Linked DNA regions of Homo sapiens. The protein of the gene in region 3 interacts with the protein of the main gene of each other region in a pairwise test. Each region holds a gene or a part of one and is shown on either strand. Other genes may lie near its edges.

Evidence for each region.
Region 1: the proteins of ZBTB26 (region 3) and ZBTB9 interact in binary tests that used the Homo sapiens proteins (3 or more experiments, as listed by UniProt).
Region 2: the proteins of ZBTB26 (region 3) and ZBTB34 interact in binary tests that used the Homo sapiens proteins (3 or more experiments, as listed by UniProt).
Region 4: the proteins of ZBTB26 (region 3) and AXIN1 interact in binary tests that used the Homo sapiens proteins (3 or more experiments, as listed by UniProt).

The regions. Positions count from the first base shown.
Region 1 is NC_000006.12:33,449,598-33,457,575, reverse strand, and holds ZBTB9 (zinc finger and BTB domain-containing protein 9), read right to left. Parts: upstream 3,001-7,978; 5' UTR 2,801-3,000; intron 2,547-2,800; 5' UTR 2,476-2,546; coding exon 1,054-2,475; 3' UTR 32-1,053; downstream 1-31. Other genes in the region: SYNGAP1 (ras/Rap GTPase-activating protein SynGAP), read right to left, coding at 5,670-5,816. UniProt on the Homo sapiens protein: May be involved in transcriptional regulation.
Region 2 is NC_000009.12:126,856,262-126,863,638, reverse strand, and holds the start of ZBTB34 (zinc finger and BTB domain-containing protein 34), read right to left. Parts: upstream 3,001-7,377; 5' UTR 2,900-3,000; intron 2,461-2,899; exon of another isoform or gene 2,403-2,460; intron 48-2,402; exon of another isoform or gene 1-47. UniProt on the Homo sapiens protein: May be a transcriptional repressor.
Region 3 is NC_000009.12:122,914,497-122,921,980, forward strand, and holds the end of ZBTB26 (zinc finger and BTB domain-containing protein 26), read right to left. Parts: intron 5,449-7,484; 5' UTR 5,439-5,448; coding exon 4,113-5,438; 3' UTR 1,070-4,112; downstream 1-1,069. UniProt on the Homo sapiens protein: May be involved in transcriptional regulation.
Region 4 is NC_000016.10:307,237-315,273, forward strand, and holds part of AXIN1 (axin-1), read right to left. Parts: intron 7,448-8,037; coding exon 7,307-7,447; intron 2,834-7,306; coding exon 2,737-2,833; intron 1,390-2,736; exon of another isoform or gene 1-1,389. UniProt on the Homo sapiens protein: Component of the beta-catenin destruction complex required for regulating CTNNB1 levels through phosphorylation and ubiquitination, and modulating Wnt-signaling.

The DNA.
Region 1 (7,978 bases), on a different chromosome or scaffold from region 3:
ACACAAATTACTCAATCCAGTCCACTGTCAGTTTAGGTTTCAGGGCACAGTTTATTAAAAAATTTTAAGTAACTGCAAGTCCCACCCCCGATTCCAGTATCTGTCCCCTCCATATCTCAACAGAGGGGCTGTCTATCATATGTGGGTGGGATGGGAAAGGAAGAGGTATGGTCCTACTATGCAAGTTACTCTCCAGCCTTCAGCTTGTGCTGTCCCAAACCTGAGTCCCTCTGACCAAGGTAAGTTGTTCAGAGAGCAGTGGTGCCACCCTGACAGCACTTTAGGACAGTGCCATCTCCTGAGATCACTAGTCACATTCCAGTCATTGTGACCAATATATTAGTTATCAGTGGTGGTCAAAGGTAGACCAGAGGCACAGGCTGTTGAGGGAAGACCCTCTATTAAAGAAGGTTCTAAGAATGAAACATGGAATGCTCAACTTGTTAAAGTGCTCAGCTACAACATTAAAAAAGTGTCGGGAAGGTGTCTATTGGTGAGAAAGCAAGGTACAATCTGAGGGGCTCCTGGAAAGATACAATTTTAAAAGTACACAAAAGGACTTCTGCTTAAATCATTCCAGCAATGAGAGAAAAAAGCTTAGAGCTTAGCCTCTGAATTACTTAAGCTGTAAATCAAATGTATCTCTAGGTGGAGACCAACTCCTTCAATTCCTCATGGAGACGGAATAAAACATTTACCACTGTCTTTTGCTCTAACTCTTCTCTCACTAAATAATTGAAAATCTGGTTTCCTTAATGGACATCACCACCACAAAAATGTCCACCATGGGCAAGTGATCAACTTAAGTATGAATGGCCTATAAACCACTTTCCTGCAGGGTTGGCTAGCCAAAACCTGGAGTGGGACGAGAAATTTGAGTTTCCACATCTGCCAGGCTGAGAGGCCCATATCTAAGAACAAGAGGTCCATAATGTATCTATTCTCTTGGCATGATTACAAGATCCATGACTGGTGTGCCATGGCAGTGAGGGAAAAGTATCCATCAGCAGCAGTGGTTATCTTGTTCTAGAAGCTAGTGTATAGCCTCAGCAGTCACTTGTAAGTCCAGTGGGCAGTGGCCCAGCCCTGGCCCTTGCATAGGTCCCGGTGGCGGAGAAAACAGGCATGGACTCGGAACCGACGGCCACAGTGGGGACAGGCATGCAGGGCTCCAGCATGGGTCTTCATGTGCTCTGTCAGATGGTGCTTCAGCTTGAAGCGCTTGTTGCAGATGCCACAGCCAAAAGGCCGAAGGCTGAAGGTCAGCATGATGTGCCGGTCACGCTTTGGCTTCACTGCAAACCGCTTCCCACACAGGCAACCAAAGCGTTTTCCATCTGCAGGGGGTGTCCCCCCTAGCTTCACAGGCCCATGCACGGCCTGGCCTGCTCCCCCAGGTCCTCCACCCCCTGACAGGATTTCATTCCCATGAAGATCCACTGGTTTCCAGGATGGACCCCCTCCCCCAGATGTTGGCCCTGGCCCTGAAGGCAACAAGAACCCTAGCTCCCCATTCCCTTCAGTGTCCCCTCCAGAAAACACTTTGGTTTCCTCCTTTGCTCCTCCAGGCTGAGTTCCGCTTCCTGATATCTCCTCCTTAGGCTCGAAGGGTTCCTGCTTAATGTAGAAGATTTTGGGGGGCAGTGCAGGAGGGGCAGGAAGCTCAAGTGGTGCACTCTCACCCTCTGGAAGCTTTCGGGGAGTAGCAGTCATGGGCAGTGGGTGGGGTCCATGAGGACGGGGAAAAACCCCTGATACTCTCTGGGGCTGAGGAGTCTGAGAGAGTGTGGCTGACCCCTGGTCCTCATCATCATCATCTTCCTCCTCCTCCTCTTCTTCTTCCACCTGAATTTGCAGCACTTCTCCCAGTTCACTTCCCTCCCCTCCCACAGGGCTCTCAGTGGAAGCAGGGCTTTCAGTAGAAGCAGAGGACTGTACTGGGGTCTGGAAAGGCGAAGAGCGAATGCACCAGCCTCCTGTAGAGGATGTAGTGGAAAGAAGGGCATGGTAGGAGTTTCCTCCACGGGCTGAAATTCCACCACCTGAAGTTTCTAATTCTCTAAGAATTTCTGAGCACTGATCTACTACCTGCCACATTTGAAGGCCACTGGCCACAAGGAGATGAGCAGGAAGAGCATCCAGTGGCAGGCGGAGACGCCCTGAATAAATGAGCTGGAGCAGCCCCTCGAAGGCATCGGCTTCAATGACACTCGGTAGAGTGAGACGAGGCGCATCCCCCAGAAGCAGCTTGTCATGGAAGTAAGGAGAGGCAGCAGCTAACACTGCTTTATGAGCCCTAAGTTCCCGGCCCTGCACCAGGAGGGACACATCACAGAACTTTCCCTCTAGCCTGTGGCGGTTCAGAGATTCCAGCAGAGACGAGCTATGCTGTGGGAACTCGATCTGGATTGTCCGTGGGGCTGGGTTGCAGGTCGGGGAGGCGGGTACAGGCGGCAAAGGTGTTGGGGTTTCCATGGCCTCCTCGAAGGTGACAAGAATTGGGAAGAGGAGAAGGGCTTGGGGGTAGACTCCACGCGGGATGAAGGCTGCAGAGGAAAAAGATGGAGGTCACAGAAGCCCTGGATAAAGGGAGCCACATCTTCTCAAACAACCCCCTCCCCACGAGCAATAACTGGAAACTTTTAAGTCAGTGGCGGTTTCTGCAAATCAGTCCCGCACACCAAGAAAGCAAAAACAAACAACAACAACAACCACCACCACTAAACACCAACAGGGGTTTTAACTTCCAGCCCCTGTGGAAGATAAGAAGGAGGTCCTTCAGCCACCAGCCTGCCTTCACCTGCCCAGAACAGCTCCTGCCCCGCCGCTCCGTTCCGCCTCACAGTGCCCACAGAGGTCTGCTCCCGGGAAGCCGCGGTCACCCGGACACCGCGAGTCCCGGCCCGATTGTCCTTCCCGCCGACACGCCCCCGCCGTTACACACGCGGCGCTGCCCTCGCAGTTACAGTGCCGCTACAGCTCCGTCCCAGACCGGAAGCCGCCGCCTCCCCGCCGGACACCGTCGCCAAGTGCGGCGGGCGGAGCTAGAGCCGTAGCCAATCGAGGAACGGCAGCCTACAAGCCTCGTGTTGATTGGCTACTGCAGACGAGGAGGGCGGTGCTAGTAGGAGGGCACAGGCCCAGGGTGTCCTCGCAACGGGCGTCCCGGGGAGCTGCTGAAGTCCTCCCCGCTGCAGAGGACCGAGAGGCAGGGCCCGGGAGAGAACAGCCCGGTCGGAGGGGGTGGGCCGTCAGCCGCCCCGGAAAGCTGCGTTTCCCGGTGATTAAGTGTAGCACCCGCCCCCGGTAGGTCCTGAGAGGGGCGAGATTAGTTGGGTACTTACCATGTGGGCCTGGCACTTGCCCACATCACTTTGTGTCTTCCCACCGGCCCTGCGAGGGTGGGGGTTGCCGTCCTCAGTTTCCAGGCGGGGGAAACGGGCTGGAAGCGTCACTCAGCTAATAGTAGTGGACCTGGGACTGGAACTCAGATTTGCTAAGGAACCAGGCAGGTTCTTTCCTGTTTTCTGCACGGGAGCATTTTAACCAGCAATTAAAGAAACCTTATTTCTAGGTAATTTTTAAAAGAGATAAATGTGGATATATACATGAACTCTTTTATCAGATAACGCCGCTGTTCCTGGCCTCGGACTAAGTGACACAGTGGTGAGGGGAGAGTTAGATTGGAGAAGTTTGGCCGGTGCAAAACTCCTGCTCTAAAATATAAAAAATCTCATTGGGAGGGGAGAGTGACATTCTATGAGGAGAGTGTGGCATCAGGTGGGGATATACGGTTTTCCTCTCAGGCTGTCAGCTTCCTTTCAGAAAGCAGATCTTACCACCGTACAGGTCTGGAGAGCCCTGCCTAAGAAAGTCGGCACAGCGATAAAAGAACAATCTCCGTTTATTAAACATGTTTTTTTCTGTTTCACCACACACTCCAGAAAAAAAGGAAATGGGGCTGGGAGTGGAGAAAAGGGGACAGTGAGGGGGGATAGATAAGGCTGGGAGTGGGGTGGGGAGGGAGAACGAGAAAACAAAATAAAACAGGTAGGAAGAGCAACTCCCTACCCTTGAGGTGGTGGGTGGGGAGGGAAGCAGAGGGGCGGGGGGGGAGGGGGCCAGGAAGCTCTGTACAGAAGGGTTGCCCCCAGCCCACACACACACACCCCGGATATGTACAGTACAAACCCCAGATAATTACAACAGCCAAAGAAGAGAGAAGGAAGGTTGGGGAGGGTCCAGGGGTAGGGCCTGAGGTGGGGAAAGGGCACAGGGATAAAATTTCACATATTTACAACTTTTATATAAGTATAAATTTGGCCCCGGCTGGGTGTATGTGTAGGGGGATGGGACTGAAGGGGAACTGTCCATACAAAAGAAAGAGGAGTAGAGTCTAGGAGAGTCTCAATACCAAACGCAAAAGGATGAAGGGGGCAAGGCTGGGTAGGGGACAGCAGTCAGGGAAGAGGGGGTGCCAAGGAGGGGCTTCTCCCCTCCCATGGCCTACCCACCCCAAACCCCATCCATCCTACCTCCCCTATCCCGCCAGAAAACTATGTACAGAGAAACACCGAAAAATCGTGGAGCTGGCGGGAGGGAGGGAGGTGGAAGGAGATTGGGAGGGGGAGGATGAGAGGGAAGCCCAGCCCTGTCCTACCTCCCCCAGGGGACAGAGTCATGGAAGGGGGCCCCCCAACACCCCTCCTCCAACACAGGTCCCCCCACCCTGGGGGAGAGAGACATGGCTTTTCCTAGAGTAAGTTCCCCCCTCCCCCTGGGAGTAGAGACCAAGAAGAGAGAAGGAAGGGGCAGAGGGGACTGTGTGTCAGAGTAGGACAGATCAACTAGCCTGTCCTCCCAACATACACACCCTCCTAAACCCTGACCCCTCACCCTAACCTCAATTCCACCCCACCCAACACACTGGGGGAGGGGGGGGCATAAGCCCCCTCACCCCGCTCTGGGACCAGCCGAGAGCAGATCAGGTGTGGGGAGAAGGGGAGACAACTCCCATTCCCCCCTTGCCGCCCCCTCCCTGCCCCGGTGGCCCCCTCCACCCCATCTGGGTTCTGGGTGGGGAGGGAGTAAATTTAAGAGTGGTAGAAGGAGAAGGAGTTTGTGCGTGCTGAGCCCCCCCAGACGCTCCTGAGAAATCAAGGGGTAATAGGGCCCCCTCACCCGGGGTCCCCTCCCCATAACAAGGGGGGCAGGGGAGGCCAAAATGGGGCGGTGGAGGGGAGTTAGATTGTCAGCTCTGGTTACTGCTAAAAAAATCACCCTGAAGTTGAAAGTTTGGAGGTGCCACACCCCCAGGGTGGGGGTGAGGGTCTGTCCCCCAGTGCTCAGGGGAACGATGAGGCAGAGGATGGGGATAGCACCCCGGAGTGAAGGGGTCTGTACGGGGTAGGCGGTGTCCTGGGGCAAGGGTCCCTGGGGGTCAAAGAGAGGGCAGCACCCCAATGGGAAGGAAAAGGGGGCGGCTGAGGGTCCCCACTCTCCCTCCTGGAAATGGTGCAGTGGTGGGGGTGGGCAATCAGTGTGCCTCCCAGGGAGGCATTCGGGGAGGCAATCCCGCTGTTCCTCGGTGATGTCCAATCCTGGTGGTTGGTGCTGTTACAGGGTGGGGTGCACAGGAAAGGAAGAGAAGGTCTCTGATGCTGGGTGGGCTAGTGGTCTGCGGTGTTTCGGAACTCGCCGTTCTCCGTAATCTGCAGCCGGGGTGGGGGTGGTGGGGCTGGGGGGGCCAGGCCATTCCACGGTGGGGCCAGCGTCACACGCGGGTTTGTTGGACCCAAGGGGGGAAGCTGCCTCTCCTGCAAGACACCAAAAAGGAGAGCGCGGACTTATTGAGACGCTTCAAGGGGGCCTGGATGCCAGTCCCCTAGCAGTGGCCTCCCCTATAGCCAGCCCACACCACAAGCCATGGACCACCCCCTCCTCCCAGGACAGTCCCCACCATCCTCCTATTTTGTTTCTCACCTGCAGTAGAAGTTAACGTCCTCTGGGATCAGAGAGAAGAGAATCTCACCCCTAGACTCCTAACAGGGGCCTTCAAGCCTTTAACCCAGAGTGTCACACCAGGAAACCAGATCAAAACAGCAAGTTCCCACCGCACCCCCAACCTAACCCTTCTCTGGCTTCACCTGTGTATATTCCTTGCCCATCCCACCCTCCTCCTCTTGAAACCCCCTCCCACCCATCCCCAATCCGAGGTGGGAACTTCATGTTGAGGAATAAGGGGAGGCAGTACAGCAAAACCTCATTAATCCAAACCCCTGTGGATTTGGAATTTCTTCATAATCTGAAGAAAAACTGAGCTTGCATTTTCCTTTATCTGTGAAGAAAAGGTGTACTAAGCAAATTAGTGGTGGAAATATGTCTGTAGGAGGGGATATTTAACCCATACCAGAAAACAGACTTTTGAATCCTATCTATTCATTAATGCATGCTCCCTGAGGAGTGGAAAAAGCCTTGTTCATCGAGTTCTGTATATATTTTGAAGACATGCATTTCATTAAATAGACACTGTCATTCCGTTTGTCACTTATTCACAGTGGCCATCTTCTCAAATATAACATTCCAAATTAGAGAGAGGTTTAACTGTACTGGGGGGAAAGGAAGGGGATTCAGGGAAGTGATATGGGAAGGGAAAAATCTTGTGGGAGGGCTGCCCCTCTCTCTCACAATTATGGCGGAAATGACTAGGAGCTTCTGCAGACACAGCATGCCCCAATCTCTGCATCCCTGGGAAGCAGAAACTGGCTTTATTCTTTTCCACTCCCATCTTCTTTTCAGTCCTTCTCCCTGGGCTCCCAATTAGAGGGTGAGGGGTACCAGACCAGCTCCTACCCCTGGTTCTACTCTCATCACCTCCTATAGCTCCTTGACCAACTCCTGGTTCCTGCCCTTAGCTCCGCCTTCTGTTCCTCTGCTGGGAGAAAAGAAAGCCATCTGAATTTCCCTACGCTTCTGGTTGGGAAATTCACTTCCTTCTCTCTTTGGCTGTTGTAATTATCTGGGGTTTGTACTGTACATGTCCGTGTGTGTGTGTGTGGGCTGGGGGCAACACTTGGCTTTTTAAAATTCAGGCTCAAAACTAATTTCTAATTAATGGCTGAGTTGCAGAGAGACCAATACCTACCACAAGTGGTTTAGAACAAATGTCCAAATTATTTCCTGGGCCACATGGCATTTAGGCTTGGTAATATAGCTATGTCTGACCTTAGGATACAAAACCTTCCAAGTAAAAGCTTCTATATAAGCTCTCCCTTCCATCCTAGGATCAAGGAGCTAACCTCTCAGATCACCCAAACCCCAGCCTTGGGTATGAGATACCCAGCAAAACTGCCTTCTTAGCTTGCTGGGTATCTCACACATTTTCTGCAAGTCAGTGAGAGGAAATCACTTATGGTAGGGTATCCTGAGTATGGCGGGAGAGCAGGGAAGGAACCCCCAGATTCCATTCCCTCTGTTTGTCTGCTGGTGACAGCACATAAGCATGCCCTGGACACCCCCATGGACCCAAATTTAGAAAGTGGATAAATTAGGGTGCCATTATTCATTTTACAAAAGAATTCACTGCAGGAGTCCTTTAAATGGCAAAGTCCCCTGGTGCCTTTTAGCATCTTTATAGATCACCAGCTACTTTGACAGAGAGGCTGGGCAGGCAGAGAATTAAAATTACAGTGTAAGGAGCCACTGCCCACTGCAGCTCAATCCCAAAGAAAATCGCATCTCAGAAATGATGGCTATAGCTGACAGGTTCTCATTTACTGGCTTTTTAGGTAGGGTGATGTGTCCGGCAAGGCCACTCGATGGCAGGAGAGGGGGAGTGAGTGGCATCAGCAACCTGGGGATGTGAGCTGTGAAGAGTACATTCTTTACCATGCTGTTCCTGGCACCTCTCCCTGGGAATCAACATGCCTACTGAGCCCACGATCTGATCTAGGAGGATGTCTCTCCCCATTTCTAAACT
Region 2 (7,377 bases), 3.9 Mb from region 3:
GCGTTCAGTTGATGACCTTCACTAAGCTAAATTCAGCAGTTTGTCAGCTACAAAACATTAAATAGACACAATTAAGAAGTTTGAAAAACATTAAGCAGAATTTAAACTAAAGTAACATGAACATTAACGGGAATAAAACGTAACTAGATTCATGGTACTGACATTTTAGACAAGTGCTTCAAATGGAAGGCAAAAGTGGGGGGACACAGCGGTGCAGAAATCCAAAACTCAGTAGGTACACAGTTCAGCAGCTTATCATTTCTCCACCTTGATAAATGTACACCCAATAATGACAATAACAATAATGAAAATGTACTAAGCAGTTACTAGGTGCTGCACATTTTTCTACTTCGTTCCATTTTCGTTTACAGTTCATTGGATTTTATTATCCTCCACACTGCAAATAAGAAACGGAGGCTCAGAGGCATTAGATAAATTGCTCAACTTCACAGAGCTGGTAAGCAGACTTGCTAGGATTCAAACCCAGGTCTCTGATTCCAAAGCTGCTGTTCTTTCCCCACAGCCTCCGAATGAAGAATCACATGACTTTTACCTTTTCCCATGATCAGAGGGAAACGTTTCAAAGTTTCAAAGATTCGTTTTGTGCTTTCTGCACCCTAAGAGAGCAAGCTGAAAACATCCACCTTGAATGGTAGCATTACATATCACTTATCTATGACACAGAAAGCTGATAAAAACAGATTCTCCTTAAAAAAAAAAAAAGGCAAATTACAAAACAAAACAAAAAGTTGTTTACCAACAAAAATCAGGAAGTATTTGAGTACCTATTATAGAAGTCCAGCCCCAGTATTAGATACTATAAGGTCTCCGAGAGGAGTATTAAGACACAATGCCCTTAAAAAAACTCCCACTCCAGTTGGGACAAGAACAAGTTCAACAGCCAAGGAACAAGTGCTGAATCCGAGTGCCACAAAGCCATGGGGGCAGGGAAGTCAGGGAACACCCTCTGGAGGAAGTATATCTGCAGCAGGGGCTTGAAGGAAGTGAAATGGAGAATTTGCACAGAAAAGAAAAAGGAGGCCAGTGCTTCAGAAGGGGGAACAACAGAAGCAAAACCCAAGAAGCCGTAACTAACTCAGTTCTGCAGGGGACAGACTTGGAGAAGCAGAGAATAAGGTTCAGGTAGGTGGGGTGGGGCCAAACCACGGAGAGTCTTGAAAAGACAGGGTGGGCGGTGGCTGGACATACCGTGGCAGGCAAGAGGCCACTACTCAGCTTTGAACAGTGGTATAACTGCCGTGGCCTCTTAACTGATCTCCTGGCCTCTAGCTTCTTCACCAATGCCTTCAGTAGTTTCAACTTTGACCTAGTGTTTGAGTTGAGGAACTAGCCGCGGCCCACCTCTCCTCCTACTTCCCTCCTATATGAACCCTTCTCTGCCAGGAGACTGGTCTATTCACTAACTCCATAGGATCACTGGGCCTGATTCCTCTTTTCCTATCTGAATGCTACTCATCCTTTAACACCCGGCTCAAATCCCGCCCCTCACTAAACCCTCCCTAACCACTCGGCCTACAGTGACCTCCATCTCTCCTTCTTAATTCTACAGCACACAGCCTTGTCTCATCAAAATTACCTTTTCATAAGTAATGTCTCAGCACCCTGTGTAAAGCTGCCTGGAGACTGTAAGTGTGCCTTCTACTACTTTCCCACCACATGGAACAGCATCTTGCCATTTAATAAGCAAGCAAGCACTCAACTATTTTTTGACTTCCTATAGTAAGTTTGGCTTTAGCATAAAGGAAGGATGGGGGAGGGGGGAACCTCTGGAGTCAGCGACCAGCTTAGAAGCTGTTGCAATAATCCAGATGTGAAGCAAAGAGGGCCTGGACTAGGGAACAAAGAGAAAATGGGCAAATATAAACAACAAAAAATTCTGCATGCAAAAACTCGGCGGAATGTGATTAACTACTACTAGGGACAAAAGCAAGGGATGAATGAGGATTAAGGTGAGGTTTAGAAAACGCTTCTTGAAATCATTTTAAAGCCTGTCTGAAACAAAATGCAGTAAGTGGCTTAAAAAGTCCACACTGACAAAGTCTTCAGCGAAACTGCCCAGTATCTTGAATCAGGGACAGCCCTTCCAATTTGAGACATACACGGAATGGCAGAGCCAGAAGGGTTCTTAGAGAGTTAAATGAAACCCTCAATGATCACATGGGGAAACTGAGTCCTAGCATGGAAGGGGCTTGCGGAAGGCCTCAAGACAGAGACTCCCAGACGAGTGCCGCCCTGAAAGCACAGCCACTTGGCCTAGAAGGGCACTGTTTACAACCCCGGTCAGCCCCAGCCCAGCCCTCCGCAATGGCAGGACCAACTGAGCGCGAGTGGCCACGGAGACGTCTGGGGCCAAGCGCAACCCGTCGCCGCCGCCTGTTTACCTGGAGGAAGGCGGTGGCGTGAGGCAGCGGCTCCGTGGCAGCCACCCGAAGGGCCGACCCCTGGCCCGGCCGGCTCTCCAGGGAACTCAACCATCTGCCCTCCCTCCCCGTACAAAAGGGAGCGCCCCCAGGGCTAGGGGCCCGGAAGCTGGGGATCCCGAGACGCCCCGGGCGGAGGCTGGGAGCCCAGGGCAGCTGCCCGAGCGCGACCCTCAGCCGGGCCAGCGGCGCCGGGACTCCAGGACCGAGCACAGCTGGCCCCTCGGGGACGCGCGCCTGACCCCAGCAGGTGCCCGGGGCCTCCGGACCCCGCCCGGCCTCGGCTCCCGCCCGCGCCGGCCGCCTGCCCGCGGGACTGACCAGGCGCGGAGGCTCCCGCCCCGCCGCGCCCAGAGGGAGCCGGACAGCGGCCCGGGGACTGCCCCCCGCCCCGCCTGCCCCGCCTGCCCCGCCCGCGCCTAGCCCGCTGCTCGCCGCCCCCGGCCAGCGTGCCTCACCTGTCCAGAGCGCCGCGCTCACATCGCCCGCCCGCGGCGCCCCCTCCGCCGCCGCCGGCGCCAGGCCAGTCCCCGCCGCTCCGGCTGCCGCCCCAGCCCGCGCCCCCCGCCCCCGGAAGCGCTTCCCGGCCCCGCCCCCTGGACGCCCGCGCTTCCGGGCAGGCGCCAACCCGGGTGGTGGCGTTGCGCGGCGGACCTCTAGCCAGGGCCCGGGGTCCTGAGTCCCGCCCGGTTGTCGTCCCAGAGCCTCGCCGCGGGCTAGCGGCAGCCTTGGTCTGGACCCCGGAGTCCCGACTCCGGGAAGCGGCGTCGGCTCTGCCTTCAGCCCGCGCTCTCCTCGGCGCCCCCTGCTGGCGGGAGAAGGGCGGTGCAGTGGGGCGCGTTTCAGGGGCTCCCGGAATCGAACGGGTGGGAGAGAGCCCAGGACCCTCGACCCCCCCAGCACTGGGGGGCCTGCCCCCAGCCCAGCCCTCCCTTCCAAGACCCTCCCTCCTGCATCTCTTCAGGCGCATGCCACGCACCCGAGCTGCTCCTGGCAGGGCAGCTGAAGGCAGCAAGGTGCAGTGGTTAGCAGCAGGGCTCTGGGGACCTGTCATAGGGGGTCTCTTGACTTACCACCTTGGGCAGGTTTTCTCTCTCTCAAAACGGAGGTGGCTCCCGCCTGTAATCCCAGCACTTTGGGAGGGCGAGGCGGGAGGATCACTTGATCCTAGGAGTTTGAGACCAGCCTGGGCAACATAGGGAGGCCCCATTTAAATTTTTAAAACTTAGCCAGGCTTGGTGGCACATGCCTGTAGTTCCAGCTATTGGGGAGGCTGAGGTGGGAGGGTCGCTTGAGTCCGGGAGGTCGAGGCTGCGATGAGCCATGATCGTGTCACTGTACTTCAGCAGTGGTGAAAGAGCAAGACCCTGTCTCAAAAACAAAACGGAGGTGAAAATTCCCAACTCACTGTTATAAAACCCATGTCACAGAGCATGCCTCAAAAAATGTGCATTTCCAGACCCTTGGGGACACCCCAGTCTTCAAACCGTTGGGTGGGAGTGGGAGCCTCACCCAGCGTTTTCCTCCCAGCATTAGACCAATGTAACACTCTTTGAAGAGCTTCCCTTTGCATTTTGGTGGAGTCAGTAGTTGTGGCAGAGGTTTATTTTCCTTTTTCTGGCTTTGTAATAAAAATAAACTAGGAGGCAAAGATACCAGCTCCTCTTCAGGATAGAAAGCTGCTGAGACTTCCTGATGTTACTTCATCCTTTGCAAGCAGGAACTGTCTCTCCAGGATCTGTCCAGTGGTCATCCTCCAATAGCAACAGCTACCCTTTGTCAAACACTCCATGCAGGGCACTGTGTAGACACTTGACAGCCATGACCTCATTTAACACAACCTAAGGAGGTGGCGATCTATTCCCATTTTAATCCAAGAGGGAACTGAGGCTCAGAGAGGTTGAGTGACTTATCCAAAGTCACACAGCTAGTAAATGGCAGACTTGGGATGAACTCCCTTGTCTCTCTGACTTCTTATAGCAACAGAACATCCAAGCATAGGATTTTAGGCAACCTGCCTATAACTGCAGGCACCTGGGCAGACAGGTAGTCTCGCTCTTGAATTGCTATTGCACTTGAGTTGTTTTCTTGAGATCTGTCCCCAAGGGTGAGATACGTGTGCACCCAGGGCACAGGAATACATCATCTTGTCAGGTTTCCTCCGGACTGCTGAGCTGATTCTTATGCCCAGAGGTTTTCCTACAGATCAGCCTTGGGCCTCATCATTTTAACTGATTTTTGCTAAATTCGTTGATAAGAGTTAGGGTCTTCTTGGCTGTGACACAATATTTGCATATCATTAAGTACTATAAAGACTAAAATAGTTCCTGAGTTTTTGACCCTCCTCTGCCAAGTGTCTCAAAGTTGTTGGCCCTCTGTCTGTCCATTGGATGCTGGGTATTTCCCTCATAGTTTATATTTACTCTCCCACCTAACTGGGTCACCAAACTCATCATTTATATATTTTTCCAGCCCCTTGCTTTTTTCGTTCTTGTTGTTTAGCTGATTGTCATGGTCTCTACTAATTTTAGTTAAAAAACTGTCACTCCTCCACAGTTGAGGTGCATATGTGTTTCTGTTTTCCCATAATCTTTGTGGCAGTTTTAAATGATTTAACTCGTTAGCTCCCTTGAAATCAAGAAGTCTAGGGAGTGATGTACAAGTCTCATTTTAATTTATTCCACACTTACCCATTTTCCTCAGCAGCATTTATGAAATGATCCAATTCACATTTTGTTGAAGTTTGGGGTTGCCCTTCAATCCACAGTTAAGAAGGAGTTTTCTGGCCAGGTGGGGTGGCTCATGCCTGTAATCCCAAACACTTTGGGAGGTTGAGACAGGAGGATCACTTGAGTCCAGGAGTGTGAGACCAGCCTGGGCAATATAGTGAAACCTCATCTCTACAAAAAAGAAAAAAAAAAAAGCTGAGTGTGGTGCCACGTGGCTGTGGTCTCGGCTACTTGGGAGGCTGAGGTGGAGGATCGCGTGAGCCCTGGAGGTCAAGGCTGCAGTGAGCCATGATCACCACACTGCACTCCCGCCTGGGCATCAGTGTAAGACCCTCTCTTAAAAAAAAAAAAAAAGGTGTGGGGCTTCCCATCGTGGGGGTCAGCCTATGTGAGGGTGATGGCTGATAGCTTACCAATACTTGTGTTCTGCCTTTTCTTCTTCCACAGCACATGGCTAAAACACATCTCCAGCCTCCTCGCCATGTCATGTGTTAATTGAGGTAGCCTGTGAAGTGCTTGGCATGTGTGAGTCTGCCGTAAAAGTTAATTCCCTTCCCATTCTTTCCTCTTCTCCCCCTCCTTGGACAGATACGGCCTGAATCTCCGCTTCTCATTGATTCCAGATTCCTGAGCACTTGGAGAGCCAAGATAGCCAGGTTATAACTGGTCCCAGCTTCTCCTTCTGGCCTCCACAAGGGACCCTTTCTGCCAGAAGTCCAGCTGCAGGACTTGGCTCTGGTCCACCTGGCAATCCTCAGAGTTTGGCAAAACCTGTTGACTGTTGGCACCTGTTAGTCTTTATACACACACATAACTCATGTGTCTCCCTTAAACAAAATATATGAATTATTTGCGGTTTCCTCATTCTTCCTCCTCTAATCAGGACCCACTAGTGTGTCCCTTCCACATGCCTCACTACCTGAACAGTACCGTCGAAGGGGGAGCCTGTCTCTCCAAACAGTCCCAAGATGTCCACTGACTTCCAGATCATTCCAGTAGGTCAGGGTTCCTTCTACCTGGCTGCCTCTGCAGAGGAGGGTGAACATTCCTCATGGGTCAGGGAGAGCACTTCCTTGGAGAACCCTCAGACACTCACCACCTTTACAATGGGGACCAGGTAGTTGGTTTACCCCTCGGAGCTTCTCTTCTTCACCTGTTAGATGATGGTGAGGCTGAGGGGTGTGATCTGAAGAGCTTCTTTTCCGTGATCAAGACCGGGCAGTAGAGAATCCTGTGGCTAAGCAATAAGGCAGATCCAGGTCTAAACCCCAGCTCAGCCACACAAGACCTCTGTGACCTGAGATGGGGCAAGACATTTGACCCTACTGAGCCTTGGCCTCCTTGTCTGTGTAGCAACGGGGATGGTACCTACCTCAGTGGGCAAATAAGATAATAATTTAATGTTTTCAGAATGGCATACTCAATAAATATTTTTGATCAGCAAGAAAGCAAGGGAAGGCCGGGTGCAGTGGCTCACGCCTGTAATCCCAGCACTTTGGGAGGCTGAGGTGGGAGGATTGCTTGAGCACAGGAGCTCAAGACCAGCCTGGGCAACATGGCAAGACCCCTTCTCTACAAAAATTAGTCAGGCATGGTGGTGTGCACCTACAGGCTTAGCTACTCTGGGATGCTGAGATGGGAGGTGGGAAGATCACTTGAGCCTGGGAGATTGAGGCTACAGTAAGCTCTGATGGCACCGCCGCATTCCAGCTTGGGCAACAGAGTAAGACCCTGTCTCAAAAAAAAAAAAAAAGAAAGGAAGAAAGGAAAGGAAAAAGGAAAGGAGGAAGGGAAGGAAGGAAAGGGAGGAAAGAAAGGGAGAAAGGATGGTCTCAAGAGCCGCCACCCATTTCCATGAGGCCACTCCTCACTTCCTGCAGAGATGACTTGCTCTCTACTCTCCGCCTGCCTCCCCTGTTCAGCTTCCATGCAGGTCCTGCCTCTCTCTGACCTGAGCCCTGCTGACACCCGCTGGGCCCAGGTGCTGCCTCTGGAGTTCTTCCCCTCTGTAATTTTCTTCTTGGTCTGCGCCCTCCTGGTTTCCTGCTGGTTCTCCAGCACTCTTAACTGACTCTCCTGGCACTCTGCACTTCTTTGTAGTAATCACAATGGCAATTAATTACCTGTATAATTATGTGTTTAATAGCTGTGTCTCCTACCACTAGCCTGTAAACTCCATGAGGATGAGAACTTGTCTGACTTCTTCC
Region 3 (7,484 bases):
TGCCCTAAGATAATTGGTTCCCAGTTTGAAACCTGTAATCCCTTTTCCTGCCTTCATTATTGCACTTAACACGCCTGTATTAATTTGTGCCTCATCTAGGCAGAGTTATTTAGGACAGTGGCTTACTGATCTTTGTATTCTCGAAGTCTAGCACTTGGTAGGCATCAAGTATTTGTGCTGAATGAAGATATGACTGAAGAAATTCTTTTTCTTTTTTTTTTGAGACAGAGTCTCACTCTGTGGTCCAGGCTGGAGTGCAGTGGCACGATCTCGGCCTACCGCAACCTCCGCCTAGCAGGTTCAAGCAATTCTCCTGCCTCAGCCTCCCGAGTAGCTGGGATTACAGGTGCCTGCCACCACACCCAGCTACTTTTTGTATTTTTGGTAGAGACGGGGTTTCACCATGTTGGCCAGGCCGGTCTCGAACTCCTGACCTCAGGTGATCCACCCGCCTTGGCCTCCCAAAGTGCTGGGATTACAGGCATGAGCCGCCGCGCCCGGCCTCTGCACCAATTCTATTCCTTTTTTTTTTTTTTTTTTTTTTTTTTTGAGACAAAGTCTCGCTCTGTCGCCCAGACTGGAGTGCAGTGGTGCGATCTTGGCTCACTGCAAGCTCCGCCTCTCGGGTTCACGCCATTCTCCTGCCTCAGCCTCCCGAGTAGCTGGGACTAATGCCCTGCCACCAGGCCCGGCTAATTTTTTGTATTTTTAGTAGAGACGGGGTTTCACCGTGTTAGCCAGGATGGTCTCGATCTCCTGACCTTGTGATCCACCCGCCTCGGCCTCCCAAAGTGCTGGGATTACAGGCGTGAGCCACCGCGCCCGGCCGCCTCTGAACCAATTCTTAAAGGCAGTTGCTCTGCTCCTCCAGCAACAGGTTCTCGTGGAAGTAAATGAATCTAGTAACAACTTTCTGATTAATTCGTATTTTTTTCTGAAGGCAAGCTCAGCATGCTTAATATGTATTTTTAAGACTATACATAAAGAAGACCTTCCTGTATTCAAAGTAAAGCAATTAAAAAAGAATAGAAGGAGGGGAGAGTGAGAAAATAACCAATGACACCAGAGCTTTAATCGTCACACTTTTATTAAGGAAACTTCCCCATAATAAGTGAAGAGGTAGTTCATAGTATGTCTAACATACAACAGATTTAGAACAGCTATTCATGAGCTGAAATAAAATCTTCTGGGTTGTTTAGGACAGTATTTTAGAAGCAGTGACATTGGTCACCTTCCATTTATAGATCTGCTAATAAAGAAACTTAAATTAAAATCATATCTGATTTACCTCAGAGCCACTTCAGTTTGGAGTTTAGTATTAAATAATAAATAAATAACTGACAGAGTAATTTTTTTTTAAACCAAACTATGGTAGAGAGTCATCTCCTTTTTAGTTCTCCTGGGGATCCATAAAATACAAATGCTGAATGATAAAGGTTTTAAAAATCTTCCTCCTCTACAGAAATATGACTAGTTTTGAAAGTCATCTTCCTCTGTAAAATACTGGATATCAGTAACTTGACTTCTTTGCAATATAATCTAACAAACACGTATAAGCAAAGAAGGAGGAAAGTGAAGTTCCACAAAAATTAGAAAAATGTCTCACAGAAACAGAACACCTCTCCAGCCAAAAATGGAGGAGACTGTAAATCACTTCAGTGGTTTGCATTTTCAAAAGGTGAGAACTAAATGTTTTACTGATACAAAAGCACAAAGTTGCTGATTTTAACTGATCGAATACAGCAAGGCAGCTTTCTTTATTATTTCTAGTATAAAAGCAAATTGAGACTTTGTTTCACTAAGACCACATGAGACTATAAGCTCCATGAGGGCAGGGACTATATCAATCTTACCTTCATTATCCTCAGTATCTAGCATAGTGTCTAGCAACAGTAGGTGCTTAACTAATGTTTCTTGAACAACTGAATGAACCCAGAAATAGTCTCCAACCAAAGAGACCAATCTTATTTGAACCCGTGCCTTTTAGTCTTCAAACCAGTAACAAAAACAAGACATGAATGTGAGCAAACGAAGCACTCCAACTTGAAATTTCCCTGTGAAGAAATGATGTTGACAGAAAATACCAAAAAATGCTGTTTGGTTGACAGGGTAGAGTCTCACTATTGCATAGAATTGGTACTCTTTGGCTGGATCATGTAAAAATCACAATGCTAGGAAGCATCATTAGACCATATAATGAGTGATGTTAGGCATAAGGTACCTATTAGTCTTACCACTCAACTGTATTATCATTTTAAATATTTGAACAAAAGACAAAAATCATACTTCACATCTGACTCACATGATGATAATTTACATATGATAACAATGATACATGTAAACGTATCAAATATAACAATTGAAGATCCCCTCTGACTATGCAAGCCTAATTTTTCAAATCTGCATGCACTCTCATAGCTCAAAAATAAAAACAGAAAATCCTGATGGAAACTAATAAACAGTTTTCCACACAAAATCAACTTCGCATTTAGATTCTTCTCACATTATTCTTGCTTTTTCCCTCCCTAAACAAACCTAGCAAATCACTCACTTGGATGGGAAGAATATAATATTCATCTAACTAAAAAATAATTAATATAAATCCCTCTGCGATATTTTGTTGGCAAAATTCAGGTTGTCTCAGAAAGCCAACAGGGAGACACAAAGGGGAAACACAAACTAGGAGCTTTTTGCTAATGCATTATTCTTCATGTACTAAATCTTTTAAAGCCAAGGGATAGCGAGAAGAAGGAAGAAGATGCTAGCTCATATTTAGTTATACCTTGGTCAATATTGGCCAGGCCACCTCTTCAGGCTTTGGATACCCCAATTTAAAATGAAAGAGGTGGAGTAAATGACCTCTTAAGATTCTCTAAGGACTCTACTAATACTATTACCTAAATCTAACTCATGGGTGAGAAACAAATAAGACTTAGAATTTTAGGTCTGAAGTACAACATGTGTTTTAGGAAAAAGAGCTGTTTTGTTTTTCCTTTTTGAAAATTAACTTTGTATTTGCAATCAAAGGCAGCAAGGTGGCACAGTGTACCTTTAAGAGGTATCTGAATACAGAAATTTGATTGCCCCTTCTGTGTCCAACCTAACTTTTATCATCCGTTTTAGAAATTAAGGTACATGAGGAAACGAAAATTCAGAGACTTTTATGGTGCACAGGACAAAACTCTGATGGCCAAACTCACCTTTCTGATGGCTAAACTCTGAAACAAAATTCAGAGACTCCCAAATAGCCTCTTTTTAGAGAGCCCACTATACTTTAGCACATTTTTAGCGTGCCTGGAGCAGTCCTGATCTCAAAAGCATCAACAAGTTACACATTAATTATAAGCATATGGCCTCTTATGGGACATGCTACCAGAGAAACCGCCCATGTAAGTGCTGTTGTATAAGTGTACTTCTATCCCTGTTGATTATGCTCCTCATGGTCATCCCTAACTATCTGCCTGCAGGTGTTCCTCAAGAGAGAGTACTCTGGTATATGTGAACAATTCAATGAGATGAAGTTGGGCTATGATACTGTTGAAAAGAGTACATAACAAACCAGCATACTTCTTTATAGCCAGCTCCAAGACAAGTACAAATGGTAGGAAGCAGATTCATTTATCAGACATGGAGGAATAATCAATAGGCAACCAGAAGTTCTATCACATTTTCAGGTCAATAGCAATATCACCTTATATCTCAGCCTATTTTCTACCAAAGAAAGATTATTCACTTCTCTTAGCATAGCATCTATTAGTGGAGAGTAGGTGACGTTATTAACTTGTTGGTACCTTCGGAATGTGCCTAGTGAAAAGCCTAAAACAGTGTCAGTCTAAGACATAAGTCAATGTTAGGTAGACAAAAGGAATTATTCCTTGGGAAAGGAAAACAGACTTTACAAGATAAATAACTCAAAACAGAAAATGGGAGAGGGCAAAAGTAAGGCAAATCCACTCCAAGTGGTAAGTTGCCTGGTCTATTAGTGCTTTGACTCACTCCCTACCACCTACACAGAGGCTTTGGAGAAGTCAAACTAGCAAAATCACTCCTAAAAAGACTAAGACTATTGCCACATTGTCAGTCAGTTCGAGTTGTGAGCATGAAGCCCCTACTCAATTCACACAAGTACTATCATTTCTTAAGTTCAGGACAGCTTGGGCCAGTTTACCTGCATCCAGGACCTGTGTTGCATCGGGTTGTGGCTGACACCCTTTAGAGTCTGTGACTGTTGTACATGCAAAAGAATCAAAATCCACTGTGAGGTCTTGTACATTTCTCTCATTGGCATTATCAAAGCTGTTTTTGCCATGCAGCTGTTTAAGGTGTTTCCTCAAAACTGGTTTATGTGCAAAAACCATATCACAATAGTTACATTTATGGGGCTTATCTCCACTGTGAAGGTTAAGATGATCCTGTAAGGAACACTTCTGAGAAAAGGTTTTCCCACAGATTTTACACTGGAAAGGTTTAATTCCGGCATGCACACGCATGTGTCGATGAAGGTTGCCTTTCTGAGTGAAAGTCTTGCCGCAGAGTAGACACATAAAGAGTTTGTGCATTTTTAAATGGTTGGCGTAGTTCTCCAGGTGACGAAACACCCTGGTACACTTTGGGCACTGGTGATGCCACTGTAGGCCTTTGTCTACACCTCGAATATTAGGGCCAAAGACATCTTTTGAGGCCATGATGATGTTATCACTGCCTGTATAAGAAAGGGCATAATTGTGGAGATGGTTTTGTTCTATTTCACTTACTCTGTTTTCCACAGTTGAATTTATCAGGGAGTGCTGGGGCTCTGATGAATGTAAAGCAGTGGGTTCAGAAGAAATAAACTGGTTCTGATCTTTTTTACTTCTAACCTCTGATACATCCCCAATAGATTCTACCTTAACAATCTGAATATCACTGTCCTCCATATCCATACTGTCTTCAGATGGATGAATACAAGGTGAGTCCTGCTTTGGGGAGCCTCTGGCATCTCCCTGCTGTTCTTTTGACTGGGGAGAAGCACTCTGTGGTTCACATCCCTCTTTACTATCCATTGGTTGTTTTGGCTTTATAAACTTCCACAGGGCCTGTGTGCACCGTTCTACAATGTGGCTCATCTGAAGAAAACTTGCAGCAGTCAAGTAATTTACCAGTTCCATCTCAGGGAATTCCAGCACACCACTATAACAGGATAAGAGCAATTGTCTCCCCACTTCGGAACTCTGTAATATGGAGATTTTCACCTCTCTGGAATCATTCAGTAAAAATTGGTCTCTTAAGAAGGGGGAACCTGCAGCAAACACAATTTTATGTCCCTGTACCTCAATATCATCTATGAGAACTGTAACATCACAAAATTTATTCTCTTCTCTTAATTTGTTCATTTTTTGTAACATTGAATCTCCATAATTTTCAAACTTGAAGTGAAGGAGATCTGATCTTTCAGACATTTTGGCAGACCTAAAGAACAGAAATGTAAAAAGGTTGAATTTAAGGAAACTCAGACAATTAAGAAAGCTGGATCTACCTTCCAAAAACAAATCTGTGTTGTCATATCTGTTTTGTATGTATCCAAATGAAATCTTCCTTGAAAGGGGAAGCCACTATAACAGGTTTCAAAGGCTGTTAAAAATTACACCTTACCAATATCAAGTGCCAATTGCACCTAAAGAGCAGACTTGTATTTGTGTAAATAGCTTGGCATTCGTTCAACTTTTAAAGATACTTATACGAGAATAGTGCTTGGGATAGTCCAAGAGTATCTTTTAACTTCTCAAATGAGAATTCTATCAGGTTTCTAAAGCAAACTAAAACATAACCCACACAAGTAAAGATGAAATAATTATCTTATTTTATATAAAACTGTGAACCTGCTTCTTCTAAGGCAAAAGCAATTGTCTCCCCACTTCAGAACTCTAATATGGAGATTTTCACCTCTCTGGAATCATTCAGTAAAAACTGGTCTCTGAAGAAGAGAGAACCTACAGCAAACATGGGTTCCTTTGCTCTTTTTCTTTGCTCTATATTTTAAACAACTGCACTGACACTGCTTGTCCAATTCCTGGCCAAGCCCTTTTCTGTTTAAATTGATATGAACTTATTCATACAAGTATTTCTGCAATAAAATGAAAGTCACAGAACTAACGGGACAATGTTTAGGCAAAGACAAAGTTCTTTGTCCTGTCCATTCTGGAAAAATCTAAACTCCGTTTTAAGGAACACTTCTTTATAAAGAAAATAAGATACTTGATGTAGAAAAACGACATGAGCTATATGGTGGGAATCTGAGTAGCGGTAACATAGATCGAATCAATCCCTATTAGATTTTGTTCTTTAAACTTTATCCCTATTTATCAATCATTAGTCATTATGTGGACTACTAGAACTGATTCATAAATGTTGCCTTGGCTTCCTGCTTATGTTCCCTCTAATACAGTTTTCATACCACCACATCTTTCAAAAACAGAGATCTGATTATACCCCACCCCTGCCTAAACTCCTTCAGTGACTTCCCGTTGTCTCCTGGATGAAGACTAACCTCTTGAATATAAACTGATTAATGAAACCCAATCATAATTAAGGTAAACACTGGAAAAACCCATTCAACAATGGAGAAGGTATCTTTCCCCAAACTGTCTGCATACTGATTCCTTTATATAGCAATTCCTTTGGTGAAAGTCTCCATGTTCTGATTCCATACTCTCATAAATGATTTTCTCATAACCTGGCTTCCCATTTGTCTCTCTCAAGGGAAAAGATAAATTTGCCATGCCAACACGATAATTCCAGTCCACTAGTCACTGTAAACTAATGACATAATGAATTGACATTCTCTTTATATACCAGTCTTCTATGAGATTGGTAGGTATGCTAGGTCTGTCTTTGAGATATAGCTCTATAATCTCAGTGCATCAAGAAATTCACTGAATTTTATGTATTAATCAACCCCTTAGTTCAGAGTCAGATGAGACAACCAGCTTCTCCTGGCCACATCTGGACCCCAAAGTCCAATCTTTATCATCTTAACTTCTGTAACAATGGATATCAGCTCCTGATGGCAGAGTCCAGGTTTTATTCTTATTCCTTAATGCCTGATACATAACAGCTCTCTCTTGGCTCCAGACCTAATGATACTTGTTTCCTTAGTTTAAAACACTACTTTCTAGGCTGGGCATGGTGGCTCACGCCTGTAATCCCAGCACTTCTGGAGGCCAAGGCAGGCGGATCACCTGAGGTCGGGAGTTCAAGACCAGCCTGACCAACTTGGAGAAACCCCATCTCTACTAAAAATACAAAATTAGCTGGGCGTAGTGGCACATGCCTGTAGTCCCAGCTACTCAGGAGGCTAAGGCTGGAGAATCACTTGAACCCGGGAGGCAGAGGTTGTGGTGAGTCAAGATTGCACCACTGCACTCCAGCCTGGGCAACAAGAGCAAAACTCCATCACAAAAACAAAAACCAAAACAAAAAACAAGCCAGGCATGGTGGCTCATGCC
Region 4 (8,037 bases), on a different chromosome or scaffold from region 3:
CTCATGCCGCCACGCGAGCTCCATAAAAAGACTCCAGGTGGCCTTGCAGGCTGCGTCACCACGGTTCTGAGAACAGCAAAACTGTCAGAGTCATCAGATTTACAGAGAATGGCAACCTCTCCAGCTTTAGAGGAACAGAAAAAAATATCATAAAGGAAAAAGCCAAGTAAATGAAAACGTGAAACTTCCAAGTAATTGTAAAGGCTAAAGATGAAGAGGCCCCTCCCCGCAGGGCACGCATTCTGGTACCAGATGCTGTAAAGCCACGGCCCCCAACCTTTTGGCACCAGGGACCAGTTTTGTAGAAGACAATTTTTCCATGGACAGTGGGGGCAGGGGGCTTTTCGGGATGAACCTGCTCCAACTCTGATGGGCAGGTGTTAAAGAGTCTCACAAGGTGCACACAGCCTGGGCCTCCGTGGGTGCAGCCACAACAGGGTTCTGCTCCTATGAGCGTCTAAGCTACTCCCCTCCTGCTGTCCCTGCTGCAGAGCCATGGACTCACCAGAGAAACGGCATAGCTTTTGCAAAACCAAGGCCCTCAACAGAGCAGAAGTGGGCAGTGCAACCACGGCACGTCCTGCTAGCTTATCGGCTTCCTGGGCCTCCCCCCGCCTCTGCTCACCACCATCCTCGGGTCCAGTTTCCCAGTAGCAGCAGTGAGCAGGCCCCGGGCAGCTGTGCCCGTGATGTGGGTTTCTCACTTGGGCCTCTGGCTGAGGGACCTCCCACCGAAGGTTCCAACCACAGCCCCACCTGACAGGCCACATGGACCTGATGCAGGTTCCTACAGAGCCTCCGATGAGGTTGTTTGCTGCAGACTGTTCACACAGAAACGCACACTGCGGCCCCCACCCCACCACACAAGGGCCCTCTGGGGGTGCGGAACGCAGCAGGGCCTGCTCCTGTCTGTGCCTGCCGCCTCTGTTGGCTTTCATCTTCCTGGCGACTCAAATGTGACCCTCCAGGACCTGAGGGCTCTGTGCTTCCCTCGGTTCTGGAAGGTTCTGACGACGACACCAGGGACTCGCCATAGGCATCCTCTTTTCTCTGTGTTGCATCCTGAGAGGTCTTTCCAGGTCCACGTTCCAGGCACCAACGCACTCCACAGCTTCTGTCCTTCCTGACCCTTCTGAGGGGAGGTTGTCTGCCTGATGCCCCCTCATCCAGAGTCTGTGGCATGCACTTTCTACACACGAAGACTCTGACCAGCACCCCAAAATCGGGGCACCCCTGTGGACAGAAGCCTCCCGCGGGCCTCAGCCCACTCAAGCCCCGTCCTCATGGGCACAGAGGGCTGTTCCGGGCCTGTGGTTGCTCAGCTGTCTTGTCTCTCGGGCCTCCGTCATCCCAGCGGCTCCGCGGGTTCTTGACGTTCAGGACCTGTGACTTGAAAATCAGAGGCCGGTGGCTGTGCAGGTGCCCTCGACTTGGGCTGTGACCTCATGATAGCCTTGGGCCATGCCTGGCAGGCAGGGCCCCAGATCTTCCACAGCACAAGCACGCACACACGCACGCACCCACACACAGCCTACAGTGTCAGCCACTTTTTGTTAAGTAGACACCATCAGTGCCTAGTTTTAGCCAAACCTGAGTCAAGGGTTGGCTGGCATCTTCTCAGAAGTGATAACAAACCAACATCCTTTCTTTTCAACCATAAAGAAATTCCTGACTTGGAAACTGATGTCTGCAGAAAAGCTAAAAGGCTAAGAAATCCTGACCAAGACTGTGTCAGTGCTCTCAAAATGCCTACTTCCCTGCACAGACACTCAGATGGTCACGTGGTTTAACCTCAGACACCGCGGCTAACAGTGCGTTGCGCAGTGGCTCACACCTGTAATCCCAGCACTTTGGGAGGCTGAAACGGGCGGATCACGAGGTCAGGAGATCGAGACCATCCTGGCTAATACGGTGAAACCCCATCTCTACTAAAAATACAAAAAATTAGCCGGGCGTGGTGGCAGGCGCCTGTACTCCCAGCTACTCGGGAGGCTGAGGCAGGAGAATGACGTGAACCCGGGAGGCAGAGCTTGCAGTGACAGCAAAACTCCTATCTCAAAAAAAAAAAAAGAAAACACTTTTCTCATCTTCCCGTAACATCTTTCCTGTTCAAAGTCAACCCATCAAAATAAGGAAAGATCATTAATCTGTTCATCAGCGCAGGAATGCTCTGTAGACGGAGTCAGGCTGTGCTGGGCTCCAGCTAGCACTCAGCTCCATGACCTACTGCCCAGCCAAGCCCCCATGCCCGAGACTGGGCAAAGGTGCCATTATTCTATGCAACAGCGAAAGCCAAGGCAGCTTTAAAGTCAAGACGTTTACCTGGAGACGACCACTGTTCAGCCACAAAAACACCAAGTTTTCCCCAAGGGCTGTGCAGGGGCCAGGCCTGGGCTCTGAGTCTTGAGAAAGGCTCAGAGCTCCCCCTCTTGAGGGGAAGCATCCACCTTCACAAGGCAAGACACTTCCTGCCACCAGGGAGGGTGTGGCCTTGGGGCATGGGGGCTCTTCTGAATGAACAGCTCCCTCTGGGCCCTAAATGCTGCCTGAGACTTGATGTCCCCTGCTGCCCTCAGGGACTGGCCACTTGCAGATGTTGCTGGGATCACACGCTTACGCCTAGAGGTAAGCCTGGCTCGTGGGAGGCCAGGCAAGTGCCTTTCCCGCGGACCAGTTCACCAGGCCCACGCTGAGCGGGGAGGACGATGGGCTGAGGACCGCAAAGCCGGTACTTACGGGAATGTGAGGTAGGGGCACCCGCCCATTGACCTGCACGCTCTCCTGCATCTCCCTGCGGTGCTGCTTACGGATCCTGTATGGGGGGATCCCATCCCTGTCCAGGAGAAAGAGGCAGCCGTTAACTCAGAGAGGAGCAGGAGGGCCAGCACCGTGCCAATAGAGCTCCTGGCCCCGACCGCCGGTCAGCAGGCAATGATGAGGACACCTGTGAGCCACCACCACTGAGACACGTGCACACAGGTGATGCAGGCACCCATGTGTGCACAGGGGAACATGTACACACAAAGGTTCACACGTGATGGTAAAGCCCAGGTGCCCAGCCACGCGTCTTCCTAGCTGGTATTTACTGGGCACCTCCACAAAGCCTCCTTGTGCCTGCCTGTTCTTTAGGGCCTGACAGCTAAGAGTGGTTTCTACATTTTTTTTTCTTCTTTTTTTTGAGATGGAGTCTCGCTCTGTCGCCCAGGCTGGAGTGCAGTGGCACAATCTCGGCTCACTGCAAGCTCCACCTCCCGGGTTCACGCTATTCTCCTGCCTCAGCCTCCTGAGTAGCTGGGACTACAGGTGCCCGCCACCACGCCCAGCTAATTTTTTTGTATTTTTAGTAGACACGGGGTTTCACTGTGTTAGCCAGGAGAGTCTCGATCTCCTGACCTCGTGATCCGCCCGCCTCGGCCTCGCAAAGTGCTGGGAGTAATTACAGGCGCAAGCCACGGCGCCCGGCCAAGGTTTCTACATTTTTAAAGGGTGGGGGAAGAATCTGTGACAGGGACTGCATGCGGCTGCAAAGCCTCACATATTCACTGCCAGCCCTGCACGGGAAACGTTTGCTGGCCCCTGCTTGTGGCCTAGACCACTGTGCAGTGTGCCTGCCTTGGAGGGCATTGCTAAATGGACCAAAAACATTTCAGGATTGCACAGTGGGCAGCCAGGACAACCAGTGCCCCACGGAAAGATAGGAGATGCCAAGGCTGCACACTCTGCTTCTCTCCAGGAGCTGGCAGGGCAGTGTGGTCTCTGAGGGAGGCACAAGGTAGCTCTTTAGCAACAGGTTTTCTTTTATTTTTTTCTTTTTGAGACGGAGTCTTGCTCTGTCGCCCAGGCTGGAGTGTAGTGGCGCGATCTCGGATCACTGCAAGCCGCTCCCGGGTTCACGCCATTCTCCTGCCTCAGCCTCCCGAGTAGCTGGGACTACAGGTGCCCGCCACCACGCCCGGCTAATTTTTTGTATTATTTAGTAGAGACGGGGTTTCACTGTGTTAACCACGATGGTCTCAATCTCCTGACCCCGTGATCCGCCTGCCTCGGCCTCCCAAACTGCTGGGATTACAGGCATGCGCCACCGCGCCCAGCCCGCAACAGGTTTTCTTTATGAACCCTTTAGAAGATCATTAAAACACGAAAGTCAGATTATACATGGTCTGAATAATTACCCCAGGGTTAAGATAACTCACGCACAACCATCCTTCATGAAAGCCCTCGCCCTCTCCCAGCTATTAGAAAAGCTGCCTTCGGGCTGGGCGCAGTGGCTCATGCCTGTCATCCCAGCACTGTGGGAGGCCGAGGCGGGCGGATCACGAGGTCAGGAGATCGAGACCATCCTGGCTAACACGGTGAAACCCCGTCTCTACTAAAAATACAAAAAATTAGCCAGGTGTGGTGGCGAGTGCCTGTAGTCCCAGCTACTCGGGAGGCTGAGGCAGGAGAATGGCGTGAACCCGGGAGGCGGAGGTTGCAGTGAGGCGAGATTGTGCCACTGCACTCCAGTCTGGGCAACAGAGCAAGACTACGTCTCAAAAAAGAAAAGGAAGAAAGAAAGAAAAGCTGCCTTCGGAAGCACGGCAGCTCCAGGGATCCGTGCCGCACCCAGGGGCCTCTCAGAGCTGCCAGGAGACACAGGACGACTGAAGAGAGCGCCCGACCCAGGGCTGCGTGGCAGACACGGCAACTCCTGAGGCATCCTCGGCTGTCACAGCACCACTGAGTGTTGTGGGCAATGGTGAGCCGAGTCCAGGTCTGGCTCAGCCACGGTGGGCGTCAGGAACAAGTGAATCTAAAACTCACCTAACACTTGCCTCGGGGTTTGTTGAAGTGTCCTGAAGCCACCAACCTACTGGTTTCTTAGACATGATACTTGGATTGGGTAACCTCCACAGGCCTCCGTGGATTAGACACTGACCCCACATCTGTGTCCACAGCCCACAGCCTCTCGAGTGCCATGTGGAATGTTGTGAGCTTGCCGCCAGCACAAAAGCTGAGGGCAGCTGCCCCACCGGAATGATGCTCTTCACCTGTCCACTTTTTACCTCTGATTTGCTTTCGAGTACGTGTAGCAATTTCACATTCCAAATTGTTAAACACTTCAGTACAAACCAAGATGAACAGAATATCAAGAAAAAAAATACCTATTTATTTTAGGTCCTCCCTTTAGGAAACATATGTCCCTTTTCTTGGAGAGAATTAGGAGACTTTTTGAGAAAACTGAGTTGGCAGGTTACTTTTTGTTGTAGTAACAGAGTTTTGGGGAAGAGGGAAACCAGATGCTAGGATGCATGTCAGGCGCTCCGTGGGCTGCACTGCACCCAACCACCTGGCCCGAGGCTTCAGGACCACGGCAGGCACTGCTTCAACTCCAGTAACCTCAAGTCAGGTGCTGCTAAAATCACGTCAACATTTTATTTTGAAGATTCAAAATTAAACGAGGATGAAAGAAACCAGGAGAAGCCACACACAGCAGCTCTGCCCGGAAGGGGCAGGGAGCTGCCCCTGCACTACCACAGCTACCTGGGGAAAAACCAAGGGGCCAAGACCTACGGCAATGTGGGCTGGCTGAATCTGGTTCAGAAACAGAATGTGACAACTTGTTCTCCTCATCTGAAATTCAGGTTTTGGAAAAATGTTTAAAGACAGGCAAATGAAAAGAACAAACCAGCCAGGCACAGTGGCTCATGCCCATAATCCCAGCACTCGTGAGGCTGAAGTGGGTGCAGTTTGCGCCCAGGAGTTGGAGACTGCATAGTGAGGCCTCGTCTCCACAAAAATAATCATCATCATCAGCCGGATGCAGTGGCTCATGCCCGTAATCCCAGCACTCATGAGGCTGAAGTGGGTGCACCGTTTGAGCCTCGGAGTTCGAGACTGCATAGTGAGGCCTCGTCTCCACAAAAATTATAATAATCATTAGCCAGGCGTGGTGGCGCACGCTTGTAGCCTCAGCAACTCTGAAGGCTGAGGCAGAATTGCTTGGGACCAGGAGACAGAAGCTACAGTAAGCCAAGATCGCACCATTGCAGTCCAGCCTGGGTGACAGTGAGATCCTGTCTCAAAATGAAAAGAACCATAAAAATGGTACATACAGTGGGACCATCACTTAAAACATATTCATAAAAAGATGGGCAGAATCACCAGTAGGTGAGAAGTCCCTCTCTCCTCCTCCAGCCCTATCCAGATCTCCAGGCTTTCCTCATGGAGAACCCAGCTAAGCGGGAAAGACATCTGGGACACCACTGGCCGCAGTGGGGATGGAGGGTGGTGGTCCGCGGGCTCCAGCTGCTCACAAGTTCATAGCCGCTGGCTTCCTCCAATGCTGAGGCTGCTGCAGGGAGACCCTGGTTCCTGCGGCTCGGCCCCAGCCCTGGCTAGGATGGCTGGTGGGCAGGTGGCGTGTGGCGCACAGACCAGAGCTGGGAAGGTCTGAGCTTCATGGGTAACCAAAACCCCAAATGACCCCCACAGGCTGGCAGCCAGTGCCCTACTGCAACAAGACTGTTGGCATCATCTAATGGCTGGGGTGTACATAGGTCCCAAAAAGCCAGCTGCGAAGCACAGGGGAAGAGGTCATAAAACAAGCACGTTCCTACACATGGGGTTTCCCTGGACAATGAAAGAATAAGCTTCTGCCTGTCACCTCGAGCGTCACACATGTGTGGCCCAGGCCTCAGCACAACCACAGCATCTTCCCTCACTCCTGCTCCCAGCCCCTTGCCAAGTGGGTGACAGGGACAAGACAGGACCCTGTACTGCACCAGCGTCGGCAGAAACGCCACCCTCAGGGACCACATCACTCGCCACAGCCAGTGGTGAGGCAGCTGGCCTGTGCCTGTCTTTAAGCTGAAACCCCAGACTCTGAAAACCAAAGAGCAAACTCTAGCCCGGGCAGCCTACAGACTGTCTTAGGTTCACCCTCGATCCTTCCTCATAGGGAGGTCCCAGCAGCCCTGGTCACAGAGAGAAGCAACCGACACAAAGCTGAGCCCTCACTTGTACTGCTTGGAGGACAGCCTCTGCGGTACAGCCTGCCTGCATGTCCAGACGCACTCTCACTGAGACCTGGGGAGCCAGGAAACACTTTTCCTGAAGACAAAGCCCAGGCATCTCTGGGTCAGCACGAAGCCCCCTCTGAGCTGGCCGCGCTCTGCAGCAGGGTGGGACTTACACGCTGCCATCCGCAAGAAACAGGGTGTCTGGGGCAGGACTTACACATTGCTGTCCTCAAGGGACAAGGTGTCTGGGACCGGACTTACACACTGCTGTCCGTGAGGGACTGGGTATCCGGGGCGGGACTTACACGCTGCTGTCCGTGAGGGACAGGGTGTCTGCATCGCTGGACAGGCTCTGCTGCTCGCTGTCGTTGGCACTGGTGGCTGGGGCCAGGGCATAGCCGGCATTGACATAATAGGGGTTGACTGGCTCCCGCCAGGATCCATACCTGCAAACAGGCAAGCAGGGCATGTTAGTGACAGCCTGCCAACAGCCTCTCATTTTATTTCACATTTTCATGTTATCTGAATATCTCAATGTATTAATTAAAAACACAAGCAATTTGGAGAAAATAAGGAGCATGGAGAAAAGACCAACATCTCCACCTGTCCTCTTGTCCCTCTGTCCTTTTCAACGGGGTGCATTAAAGCACCGGGCATCTTTCCAGATCTCTCCTCTGATTTTAGGCGGGGGCTTTGGTGCACACACAGAGCATCCACACGTGATCATTTGGGTTTGTTTTCCGTGCACGGTACTAGAAATGGGACGCAGATGTTCTGCTCATTCTGCAGTGCGCGTCGGGAGAGGACACTGGGTTTTGATCAGGATGAGGCCCTTGGGATTCAGCTCAGACGTCTCTGCACCTGTGCCCAAGTCCAAGCATGGCCACGGGACTGATGTCAGGGCCGGTATGTGACAGTGTGTGTGGGTGGTGCCACCTCCTGTCCCCCTACCTAGAGCAGAGGTTCCTCCCCAGCTCCTGGGACGATTCACCTCCTCTTGTTACTGCAAAATTAGCCAGGAAATGACACCTTTTTT